Homo sapiens: one gene and its partners. The protein of the gene in region 1 interacts with the protein of each later gene in a pairwise test. Each region holds a gene or a part of one and is shown on either strand. Other genes may lie near its edges.

Region 1 (3,500 bases):
TCAGCCTCGTCCTCCCCGTCTTCGTCATCTCCCGAGGATGGAGCGTCTGCAAGGCAGAGATGGCCGCAACCAATGCCCAACCTGCCCCAGGAGGCCCCCAGGTGCCCCTCCCAGATGGGGCAGGGTCCCCCATTTGGGCAGCACTTCCTGGGGGTGCCCTCCTCTCCACCAATGACCAGAGAGACCCCCAGCCGCTCCTGACCCACGCAGGGACTCAGGGAGCCCGGCACTCGGCTCCTTTCTGTAGCTGGCGTGGCCCCAGAGCTCACCTGTCACCCGCACACTGAAGTGGCACAGTACGCGCTGCGTGAGCCGCTGCCGGCAGCTGTAGGCCCCGGAGTCCTCGTGGGAGGCATTCAGCACCTGCAGCCGCTGGGGCCCCACCAGGACACGCTCCGAGGGCACCAGCCCTGTGCCATCCTTGACCCAGACAGTGGGCCCCATGGGACCACCCCCGGGCGGGGGACAGCTCAGCTCCACAGCATCCCCGCTGCCGAAGACCAACTGCTCCTGCTGGCCGGGCTCTGGGCCCGGGACTTCTGTGGGGAAGATGGGCAACCATGAGGCAGGCACCCCCAAACCCGGCACCGTTTACAGACACAGCAGTGGAAGCCTCGGCGGCCCTGAGTGAGGAAGGCTCTGACCCAGATCCAGGGTCCCACCAGACCAGGGGCTGGAAACTGTGTCCCAAAAGGGCCAAAGGTCTCTATCTTCAGCTTTGCCAACCAGTCTGTCCCAAGGACTCCGGTCTGCCTCGGTGTGACAGCCGCCTTCCCCACACAACCTGCAGCCAACCCCACAGCAGTGGCCCCATGATGCTTCACTCATGGACACGGAGAATTCAAATCTCAAAGTGTCACAAAATGTGACTCTTCGTTCTTTTAATTTGTTCAATTGCTTGGAAACATAAAATCCATGCTTGTCTCACAGGCGGCACCACGACGGGCAGGTGCTGCGGGCAAAGGGGACAGGCTGCCCTTTGCTGGCCTCTGACTGAAATGGAGCTCAGAGGGGGTGCCAGGGTTGGCCAGCCAGCCCCCTCGTGGTGCAGATTCACCCCAGGAGGGGTCCGTCCTCAGTAGCCCCCGCACCCCATATGAGCCTGAAAAGCAGTTCAGATGGACAGCCAGGGAACAGAACAGGCGAGAAGGAAGGAGGTGCAGGGTCACGTGGCCGTGTGGACGGTCTGGGGGGCGATGCGCGGGTTCACCGGTCAGAGCACAGGCCGGAGCAGCGCGAGGGGGCCGGGGCGGGGGTGGGGGCTCCTTGGGGTGGGCAAGGTTCTGTATCCTGCAGCTCCTATGGAAGCTCCACACGGCGGTCATGACGGAAAACATACCGAGAAGAGCAAAGTACAAACACGGCGCTGGGTCCGGCCAAGTGGGTCTCACAGGCCGGGGAGTGGGGAGGCCCAGGCGGGCCCTCAAGGGGGCCGGGGGGTGGAGTCCTGCTGCCTGCAGGGGGACTGGGGCCCCCTCACAGAGGACGACCAGGCTGGGGGCAGGAAGCTGTGAGAGCCAGGGCAGGTCAGCAGCCCTGGCCCCTCCCTGGGGGCTGAGAAGCTGGGGTGGGGGCCCACCCACAGGGGCAGATGTGCAGGTGGCCCCTGGGTCCCTCCCCAGTAGCTGCCCAGCTCCCCAGAGCCACCAAAGCCTGTGACCCAAGGACACACCATGGGCAGGGCTGGGGGGACAATCGCCCCTAGGCTTCCCTGCCAGGGCCAGACAATGCATGCAGGCAGGCGTCCCGGGCTTGGGGCCGGGACGGGGGTGGGTGGTCCCCCAGGCAGCCTCCTTCTTCAGACCCAGCTGGGCGGGTTGCGCCATCACTTGTCATTCTGCAGACGCGTGGCCTAGATTCGGGGGCCCAGCTGCCCACTCTGGCCACACCAGTCCCTGGCTGCCCGGCCAGGCCCTCTTCTGCCCAACCCACCTGATCCAGCCACACACGCCTAGTGCCCAGGGTGACCCTGCCAGCCAGAAGGGCCCACACTCATCCCCTGAAGCATCCGAAGGAGCCCTCGCCCCACCGGGACCCACAGCTCAAGGACTGCCCCTGTAGGGACCCCGCAGTCAGGGGGGCTCCTGGCCTGACCTCCAGCCCTCCGGTCCTGGCCAGTGTCTTGTGGGGACCACCCAGAGCTGGGAGCTGCTCGAGGCCCCCCAGAAGGCCGAGAACAGGCTGGTTATGGCAGCCTCAGCTGCAGGCCCTGGCCCAAGGGCAACAGCCGGTTGGTTCCGGTTTGGTCTGAGTGGCGACAACAGGTCAAGCCATCCACACAAGTATTTGCTTCAGCCTGGTCCAGCACGGGGGGACGGGGGACACAGCAGCCCCAGGCCAGCCACACCAGTGGCCATCTGCCCGTGTGTGGTGGGGAGGGTGCAGCCCTGACTGCCCCCCCCACTGCCTGCCTGCTAGGTGCCAGCAGAGGCCAGGGTACCCCAGCAGGGGCTGGGTGGCGAGCACCAGGTGAAGGACAGTGTGACACGGGGCATGAGTGGGTGCTATAAGTTCAGGGTCTGACTCCCACTGGGAAGTCAGCAGTTGGGTGGAGCCCCCATACCCCACCCAGCTGCCAGGCATGGGGAGAGCTATAGCCCCCCAGCAGCCCTAGGAAGGGTTCTTTCTTTCTTGATCCACAAAAGGGAGGCCCCACTGACACCACACAGACACTGGTGCCCAAACACGTTGGAGACAAAACTCCTGCTGTACCCAAGGCGGGGTAGGAGGCAACGCGTCCCACCTCCCACCCTTCTATGGATCCCACAACACGTGCTCCTGCCGGCGCCCCAACCCCACACAGTGCCGACCTCAACTTGGGCTCCACATGCCAACGACAGCCCTCTGCTGTGTCCCAGAGTCTCCACAACTCTGCCACTCACTGGTCCTGTACCTCAGTTTCCCCCACTGTGGCACAAAGTAAAAATCCCACCCCACAGGCCCAGGAGCTCAGGGAGGGCACCAGGCCCTGAAATGGCTGCAGGAGTGAGGGTAGGGGTGAGAGGCGCTCCCTGCCCTGGGTCTCTGGCCCCAAGACTGATGTCCATTAGGCAGGGTGCTGGGGACGGCCAAACTCTGGCCTGGGGAACCTTTCTCCAGGCTCTGGGTCTCTGCAGTGGAGGCCCAGTGCATGTGAGGGAGCATGGCTGAGAGGATGGGGGAGCCTTGCTCCATCATAAGCCCCTCGGGTTGACCCCAGAGAACAAGGATCAAATCCAGACTCGCTTCCGGAGCTGGCTGCCCCAGGGGTTTATTTGGGTTTTGGGGTGAGATGAGGGCCTGGGGTCAGGAAACAACACATTCTGGTTTCGGATGCACATGAAGTTCTCTGCAGCTCTCTGGGGTACAGGAGGTATTGCCAGGTAGGAGCTATAAAATAGCCTAAGAGGAGGGGGCCCCCAAAAGTCCAGCCTCCCTGTCTCCCCACCTGGAGTTTCACAATAAAGTCCGGAAAAAAGGGATCTGGAGGCTGGGCAGGCTAAAGAGGGCTTGCCAGGGTT
Region 2 (3,500 bases), on another chromosome or scaffold:
GAGGGAGAGGGCCACGAGGTGGGGAGTCTCTGGGCACCCCTCTCTCTGCCTTTCCCCCTCTTCAGAAGGACTCACTATCACAGACATACGGCTTGTCTCGGTCCTCCAGGGAAGCGGTGTCCTGGCGTTTCCGGAGACCCCCGATGCCATATGCCTGTGGGGAGAGTCAGGAGTGAGGGGCCAAGAAAGTGAGAAAACAGGCCAGGCGTGGTGGCTCACACCTGTAATCCCAGCACTTTGGGAGGCCGAGGCAGGCGGATCACGAGGTCAAGAGATCGAGACCACCTTGGCCAACATGGTGAAGCCCCGTCTCTACTAAAAATAGAAAAATTAGCTGGGCATGGTGGCGCGTGCCTGTAGTCCCAGCTACTCGGGAGGCTGAGGCAGGAGAATCGCTTGAACCCGGGAGGCGGAGGTTGCAGTGAGCAGATATTGCGCCACTGCACTCTAGCCTGTGACAGAGCGAGACTCCGTCTCAAAAAAAAGAAAAAAAAGAAAAAAGAAAGTGAGAAAACAGTGTCTTTTGCAAATTCAAATTGCAGCTGTACAAATGTCCTAGCTGTGGGGCCTTGAACCTCTCCAAGGTTCAGCTTCTTCCTCTGTGGCATGGGGATGAAGGTAGCTCTAACCCACTGCATAATCTCTGCTTTGCAAATGGCTTAATACAGATGAGCCTCAGTTTCCTCATCTGTAAAATGGGTATAAAATCCCCCACCCCTGCAGGCCGCTCTGGGGATTCAATGAGGTCAGACTGAGGTCAGACTGTGGCAGGGGCGGACCACTGCACCTGCTCCATGAATGAGACCTGTCATTGAGGGGAGCGGGGAAGAGGAGAAGCTTGGGGTGATACCTTTCCTTTGGCCCTGTTCTTCCTCCTGGGAATGTCATCCTCCAAGTCTTCCACCTCGAGGTCATGCGGAAACTCCAGCAACTGCTGTTTCTGGGCAATAGAGAAAGGAGACGGGTCAAGAAAGTGGGGGCCACTGACCTGCTTTTGAGGGGCTCTGGGCAAAGGTGGAGATTGGGGGTGAGAGTATAAGTCAGGAGTTCTTCCAAATAGAGATGAAGTCTGGGAGGATGGTGACTGGGATGCCCAACAGCCAGAAGAAACCGGGGGGGTTTCAGAGCAGGAACGTGAGGGCCCGGGCTGGTGGCAGGCAGGGGTGAGACGAAGCCATGCAGCGGGGGTCCCCCAGAGGTGGGCCCACCTGACAGTCCATAATGGTCTCCTCCTCCTTCAGCTCAATCTTCTTCTCCCCCGTCTCTGCACACAGTAGAGCCTCGAGGACCGGCCCTTCCGGGAGGCCACCCTCCTTCTTCAGGGGTGCTTCACAGTCTGGGGACAGGGCCATGGGGGGGTCAGATGGGGAAGTTGACCCCGGAGGACTCCTCAAACTATGCAGGTGGGGGGACCATGCTCTTTGCAGGAGGGAAGAGGCTGCAGAGGCAAGGATTTAACCACATGCCCTAGGAGGGAGGCCCAGACTCTGGGGAGACCCAGTCACGCCCTCAGATGCCCTGGGATGCACAGCAGGAGACACGGTCAGAACTTTGGATACACCAGAAAGCCTCAGAAAAAGACACAGTTAGGCCATCAGGCACACCCAGACCTACTCAGGGAAGACACAGCGACTCTCAAACATACCCAGACAAATATGGACAGATCCAGACACTCGCAGAGGAGACACAGGGACACCCGCAGGGGACATCCAGACAGATCGTCTGAGACAGATGCGGGAAGGAAGAGGCCCAGCCATGCTGTCTTTTTTCTTTTTTTTTTGAGACAGGGTCTCGCTCTGTCACCCAGGTTGGAGTGCAGTGGCGCAATCTCAGCTCACTGCGACTCCCAGGCTCAAGTGATCCTCCCACCTCAGCCTCCTGAGTAGCTGGGACTACAGGCAGAGTAGCTGGCATGCTACCACACTGGGCTAATTTTTGTATTTTTGGTAGAGATGGGGTTTCATCGTGTTAATCAGGCTGGTCTCAAACTCCTGAGTTCAAGCGATCCTCTGCCTCGGCCTTCCAAAGTGCTGGAATTACAGGCATAAGCCACACTCTCAGATACAGCCTAGAGACTCAAAGAGGTATAGCCAGATCCTTGGAGACACCCAGACACAGGGAGGAGACATAGCTGGACCCATGGGTACACTCAGAAATGCTCAGAGACAATTAGCTGGCCAGGCGCGTTGGCTCACACCTGTAATCCCAACACTTTAGGAGGCTGAGGCGGGTGGATCACTTGAGGTCAGGAGTTTGAGACCAGCCTGGCCAACATGGTAAAACCTCATCTCTACTTAAAAAAAAAAAAATACAAAAATTAGCCGGGTGTAGGGGCACATGCCTGTAATCCCAGCTACTCAGGAGGTTGAGGCAGAGAATCACTTGAACCCGGGATGCGGAGGTTGCAGTGAGCCGAGATCGTGCCACTGCACTCCAAACTGGGTGAAAAAAAAAAAGAAAGGAAGAAGGAAGGAAGGAGGGAAAGAAAAGAAAAAGAAAGAGAGAGAAAGAAAGAAAGAAGGAAGGAAAGAAAGAAAGAAAGGAAGGAAGGAAAGAAAAGAAAAAGAGAGAGAGAGAAAGAAAGAGAAAGAAAGAAAGAAAGAGAAAGAAAGAAAGAGGCCGGGTGCGGTGGCTCACGCCTGTAATCCCAGCACTTTGGGAGGCCGAGGCGGGCAGATCATGAGGTCAGGAGATCGAGACCATCCTGGCTAACACGGTGAAACCCCGTCTCTACTAAAAATACAAAAAATTAGCTGGGCGTAGTGGCAGGCGCCTGTAGTCCCAGCTACTCGGGAGGCTGAGGCAGGAGAATGGCGTGAACCCAGGAGGCGGAGCTTGCAGTGAGATCGCGCCACTGCACTCCAGCCTGGGCGACAGAGCAAGACTCCGTCTCAAAAAAAAAAAAGAAAAAGAAAAAGAAAAAAGAAAAAAAGAAAGAAACAATTAGCCCTCCAGATACACCTAGACCCTGGGGAAGACACAGCCAGATGAGATGCTTGGACACATAGCGGGGAGATACCGACATACTCAGGGAGAATCACTCAGCTAGATACACACAAACACACACAGGAGACAGACAGGAAGAGACACAGCCAGGTGGGCACTGCCACGCTCCTGGGTACACACAGACCCTCGGACTCAGGAAGAGAAACTGACCCCGAGGATCCCGATATTCCTAAACACATTCAAGGGTAAGTCCAGATCCTCTGATGGACTGGCACACACGTGCAGAAATACACCTGATACGCCAGACACCATCAGGAAGATTCTCCCAGACACTCCGAGGCACCCACACACCCACAGAAAGAGACGGCCGCACCGCCTAACACACCCAGACACACTCGGGAGGAGCCGGACACCCTGACAGACCAGACATACACAAGACACAAGCCTTCTAAGACACTTGGAGACACCTGGGAAGATACACCTAAGAGAGGAAAGAGCTCCAACCAGACACTGAGACATCCAGACGCCCTTGGGGAGATACAGAGGCAGACACC
Region 3 (3,365 bases), on another chromosome or scaffold:
TCAAGCCCATCTTCAGACGTCACAGTCTGGAAGTGAAATGTCCACAAACATCTGTGGCAGAAAAGGCTATACGGACCACCCAGTTGTGCTGCAGCTTTACAGAGCAAGGAAGGGTTGTGGCAAATAAATGATTAACCTGCCTCGACTGTGCTGAGGGCAACAAAGGCCATCTCACCAAAGGATTATTCGATGCCATTAAATCATCCCGTGACCTTCCTGCTTCCGAGTCCATGGCCTTTGCCCAGGGCATGTACTCCCCTGAGAGGCCTTCTGCCTAGAAAGATCTATGACTGGGTTCCAAAGTTGAGGCCTAGGTTTTTGCTGGGATTTAGATATTTTCAGGCACCATTTTGACAGCATTCAGGAAAACGGTTATTGACCCCATAGACTAGGGTAAGAATAAAGGCAATAAATTTGGTCTGACTCAGAATATAGGAGATCCATATATTTCTCTGGAAACCACAGTGTACACTAAAATGTGAAATTGAAGGTTTTGTTAAAAAGAAAAAGATAATGAGCTTCATGCTTTGTTTAATTACATAATGATTTCCATTACGCTATTTCTGTGAAATGCAGCAGGTTCTTAAACGTTATTTCAGTGGCATGGGCTGGAAGCTTATCACAAAAAGCCATGTGTGTGGCCTTATCAGAACAGAAAGAGACAGGCTGGTGCCCAAGGCTGCTGCCTGCTCCACCTTTTGCCAGCTCTGGACATCTGAGGACGTCCCGGCAGATCTGGAATGGGGCCCTCAACTGACCATTTGCTTCTCAGAATTTCAGTTTGAGACATGAGAGGTATAATCAGTTACTTTTCTCCCCCCAGAGAAACCCTTTTGTGAGGGGAGAGGAGCTATGGTATGTGGTTCAGCTGAAACACATACAACTGCATCCTTTTGGAGTCCTTTGCCAACAAAAACAGACCAACAGACCAGATGGTGTCCATGTTCAATATCATGTCTTGATGGACGCAGCTGATGACCTCAAATACTTGAGTGGTCTCATGGCTGTTAGATGGATTATTTGAAAAAAAAAAAAAAAAAAGAGAGAAAAAATAATTGATTTTTACATCAGAGATAGCAAACTAAGACCTGGGGAGGGGGGTCAGCTTTTATTTTATTTTATTTTTTTTAAGTTTGCTAGTTGGGTCAAATGTGAGGAGGAGGGAGTCTACCTGCCACCTCTTCTCTTGCCCCTCTTCTGCCCACACATCCAGCATCCAAAATCCATTCATTTAATGAATTGATAAAGTGCCGTGCAAACTGGTGCACAAACAGGCCCCCAGTCCACGCAGCCTGGCTCCTAGGAAAAGTGGTGACCGGGCGTGGGGGGGCATGCCGCAGCCCTGGGACACAGTCGGGCACCTTCCCCGGACCCCCAGGCCTTGGCTGTGCCTCAAGTCAGAGAGGGTCAGCCTTCAGGCCCCGGAGACGAGTGACTGGCCGATCATTTCACAATAAAATCACTCACTTTTGGCAACTTCACTTTTTTTAAGGCACAGTCAGTTCCTTTTCTCATGTACCTCACAAAAGATGAAGACCATGTAGTACTCTTTTTGGTAAAGTTACAGTGTTCATGTTAAATATCACTTTTTTCTACATTGTGTGGTAAAAAGAACTACGTTAATAGCTATATCTTAAATACTGTGATTTGACTTTTTGAAAAATATCCTAATACAAATATTTTACTAACTTACAATCACTCATTTAATAAGAAACATTTGGATTCTTTTGAAATCAGTGTTAATTGACTCATATTCTTAAAAGCCTGGCTCTTGACCCTATTGGAAACACAAAGGAAGCTGAAATCAAACATCTAAAATACACTGCGTACACGTGTGCGTGCACACACACACACACACACACACACACACAGCTCTTCATTTCTCCTGAGCCATGCAGAATTTACTTTCAATGTGGAAATCTGTTCCCTTTACCACACTGTATATGCACAGAGCACAAGAGAGGCTATCTCTAGTCACTTCCACCAGCGAGGCCTTAGACTCCGTATTAGAGGCCACCGATTTCATACAACAGTGTTTCGCTAAAGACCCTTCACTATTCTTGTTTAGTAAATAGCTGTCTGCTCTTCAGGGAACTGTTACCTATGGGTTATTACCAAAGAACGCTGGCAATTGGAAATGTCCTGATGGAAATTCTTTGCACGTGCCGGTTCTCTGGCATCCTCCAGGTGGCCCAACCCAAAGCAGAAAGCAGAAACCACAGACCCCGTGAGTCTCCCCATACCTTGTTTCCAATAACTTGGCAAAACTTCTTGGTGCATATTGGTTACACCCTCTGGGATTCATAATGCCATTAGGCTAAAACCCTAAGAGAGAGGGTTGACAGAAACACACGCGAGAATGAGGCAGATCCCAGAGCAAGGACTGGGCCCAGACTCTCCACATGTGCTCTACTAGTGAGTGCCTTATACTCTCAGTATTTTGGGGCTTACAGCTTCTTATTTGTGCTAAAAAGGTGCAGTTCCAAAGTAGGAACTGCCACACAGGCCCCAGCATCCTCTCTCCAACTTCATACCTCTCTCCTGGTGGGGGGAGCGGGCATCCAGGACCTCCGGAATCAAGGATGTGCAGAGAAGAGCGAAAGTAATTTTTCTAGTCACATGAACTGATTGGTTCCAGGCAATTAGAAAATGGCTATAAAATAACCTTAATTTTAAAAAAAAATCTTGGGTCTTCGTTTTCCTATTAGGAGACTGAACTGACCACATGTATTGATTTATATCCTGAATATATGGGAACTTCTGTGTTTGGGATGTCCTACTGTAAGACTGATGAATGTACAGAGTTAATTTCAGGGTACAGTTTTGCCTTAATGGTTTTAAAAAATAAACTATTTTTTAAAATTTTTTGGTGAGTTTTGAGTGATGCTGCGAGATGGACTGTTTGGTCTAAAAGAACCAAGTCCCCAGCTGTGGGGTCCGCCCTCCGCCAGAACAGTCCCTGCGCCCCTCATGGAGGCTGTCTCCACCTGCACAGTCCCTTTTGTGTCCTTCAACATACAGAATGGATCAAGGACAATCTGGCTCCGGAATACGACATCCTTTCGTCTGAAGTCACATACAACGGGAACTTTTAAAGCAGTGAGCATCTTAAAGTCCATCAGTGCACAAGTCAGTAAAAACTCTTTATTCATTCCTTCATGTGACAGTTGGCCTTGAGTAGTTACAAAGACAGAGCAGTTCCTGCCTCTCAGAATTCTAAGCAGACATTCCAGAGCTCACAGATCAGTGTCCCACCAGCTGCTACCCTGGAAGCTTCAGGGAGATGGGGAGCCTGGAGTAGGGGGGTGCTGCAGGAACCCCCGGCAGGCAGTGGGGCCAGGCTTCACAGGCACCCAGGGCTGAGT
Region 4 (2,084 bases), on another chromosome or scaffold:
GTTTTGCACATTTACCTCAGTACTTAAAGTGTATATATACATACATACATGTATATATATATATATACATATATATATATATATAGCAGGAGTAGCTGAGCATATATGCTTACTGGTTTCATGTCATTTGCTTTTATTTATATTGATGATATGAAACAAAAATATAAGGCAGCTGGGCATTGTGGGAGAAGATATACCCTAACCTGCAATCTTTGATTTCAAATGCATCTGCTGAACTAAGGCCAATAATCAAAGTACTTAGGTTTTAGTCCTAATCTGCCACTAAGTTTCACTGTTGCGTAACTCTGCTTGTCTCTCTGAATCCATTTTTCTCATCAGTAACAAGAACACTGAAATAAATGATGACTCAAGTCTCTTTAATTCTATAATTATATGATCCTATGATAGTACGAAATTTAGAATCTAGACTAAGATTAAATTTGGGGAGAGGAAACTATTCATAAGGGATTGGCAGGGACTTTATGCACACTTTAATGGTATCTACTAAGCAGGCTGGCTCTACATGAAGCATAATATTTGAGAAATTCCTTTGACATTAATTTGTGACTCTTTTAAAAATTAAATATCATCATTCCACTATAAAATGTGGTTCCCAGCTGACTTTAAAAGCACATTGTATAAAGACATACATCATAGTTGATTGCCATTTCAGAGAACAATAATGTTTCAATTTTTGTGAATTCTTGGCAGAATAAAGATAACATCCTTGGCTTAGAAAAGGCTCAGCAGCCATGGACTGTCAAAGGAAAGAGTGCAATCAGAGGATAAATGTAATTGCATGAGATGCAATTTGAAGAATACTTGAAGCTATAGAGATTTGTTTATGGCATTTGAAACTCAGAAACTCATACATGTACAGTGAATATAAATGCAACTACATTTTATTAGAGGCAAAACACTTATCTAGAAATCCAAATAAAGCAGAAAATAAAACATGTTGTATAATTTCTAAATAACTAGCTTCATAAACAAGGAAGAGAGTGGGATGGGTGTTACAAAACAAGATAGTTGGCATAGTTTTCAGGTAACACGTTCTAAGGGATGACATTTAAAGGTGTGGCTTTCCACATGCATCAGAGTATATATAAATGTTCCTGTCCAGTCACAGTCACCAAACTGACCTACAACAGCTAACCACTTCTGACAACATGAGCTACTCCGGCAGCTACTATGGAGGCCTAGGCTACGGCTGTGGAGGATTCGGTGGCCTGGGCTATGGCTATAGCTGTGGATGTGGCAGCTTCCGCAGACTGGGCTATGGCTGTGGCTATGGAGGCTACAGATACAGCTGCTGCCACCCATCATGCTATGGGGGATACTGGTCTTCTGGATTCTATTGAATAAATACTTGAAATATAGTCTTCTGTGAGATTCCCAATTCTTCCAAGAAACTTTATTCCATAACCATATGGAATTCCATATTCCATAACAAAACAGCTGCTTGGATCACCTGCCTTTTGACAATAGTGTGAAGAAAACTTGATCAACTAGATATTGGCATTTGATTAGTGATGTTCTCCAGATATTCACTTTTTTATTGGCTGGAGAGCCATTATACTCTAAGAAAGATTGTCTTTCAATATCTGATATCTAACCATGAACTTTTTCTCATGTGGTAAATGTGTTTTGAGCCTCAAATTTTTATCACAATAAATGTGCTGTGATGCATTAATATAATCAACCATGGTGATATTTTCTTCTTATAGATAAAAAAATTACCAATACGTTATATGTCACGATTATTTCTTCACCCTCCTCCTCCTCGTCATTCTTCCTGTCCCTTAAACCTTCTTCCTCCCTTTCCATCCCTTTCCTCTCCTTTATCTTCTTTTCTTTATCCCCTTCTCCTTTGTCTTCTTCCTCCTCCTCATCTTTAACATTCTCAATATCTATATTTTCTTGTCCAGGCAAACAGGAATTCTACACCAAAAGGTTAAAGATGCTTCTGTGGTGATAAACTTCTGCTTAATCTTTTAATTCACTATTTCTTGGAGAATATCTTGATAATTTCAGAGCAATATAATAAGAAAAGGTTTTAGCTTGCACATAGATTATAACATTGG

What was found. The genes of interacting proteins can lie anywhere in the genome.
Region 2: the proteins of FGFR3 (region 1) and DPF1 interact in binary tests that used the Homo sapiens proteins (3 or more experiments, as listed by UniProt).
Region 3: the proteins of FGFR3 (region 1) and PPARA interact in binary tests that used the Homo sapiens proteins (3 or more experiments, as listed by UniProt).
Region 4: the proteins of FGFR3 (region 1) and KRTAP19-7 interact in binary tests that used the Homo sapiens proteins (3 or more experiments, as listed by UniProt).

What each region holds. Positions count from the first base shown.
Region 1 is NC_000004.12:1,796,293-1,799,792, reverse strand, and holds part of FGFR3 (fibroblast growth factor receptor 3 isoform 1 precursor), read right to left. Parts: intron 540-3,500; coding exon 270-539; intron 47-269; coding exon 1-46.
Region 2 is NC_000019.10:38,217,723-38,221,222, forward strand, and holds part of DPF1 (zinc finger protein neuro-d4), read right to left. Parts: intron 1,337-3,500; coding exon 1,209-1,336; intron 941-1,208; coding exon 851-940; intron 155-850; coding exon 76-154; intron 1-75. UniProt on the Homo sapiens protein: May have an important role in developing neurons by participating in regulation of cell survival, possibly as a neurospecific transcription factor. Belongs to the neuron-specific chromatin remodeling complex (nBAF complex).
Region 3 is NC_000022.11:46,240,891-46,244,255, forward strand, and holds the end of PPARA (peroxisome proliferator-activated receptor alpha), read left to right. Parts: 3' UTR 1-2,865; downstream 2,866-3,365. UniProt on the Homo sapiens protein: Ligand-activated transcription factor. Key regulator of lipid metabolism. Activated by the endogenous ligand 1-palmitoyl-2-oleoyl-sn-glycerol-3-phosphocholine (16:0/18:1-GPC). Activated by oleylethanolamide, a naturally occurring lipid that regulates satiety.
Region 4 is NC_000021.9:30,560,375-30,562,458, reverse strand, and holds KRTAP19-7 (keratin-associated protein 19-7), read left to right. Parts: upstream 1-1,144; 5' UTR 1,145-1,169; coding exon 1,170-1,361; 3' UTR 1,362-1,584; downstream 1,585-2,084. UniProt on the Homo sapiens protein: In the hair cortex, hair keratin intermediate filaments are embedded in an interfilamentous matrix, consisting of hair keratin-associated proteins (KRTAP), which are essential for the formation of a rigid and resistant hair shaft through their extensive disulfide bond cross-linking with abundant cysteine residues of hair keratins.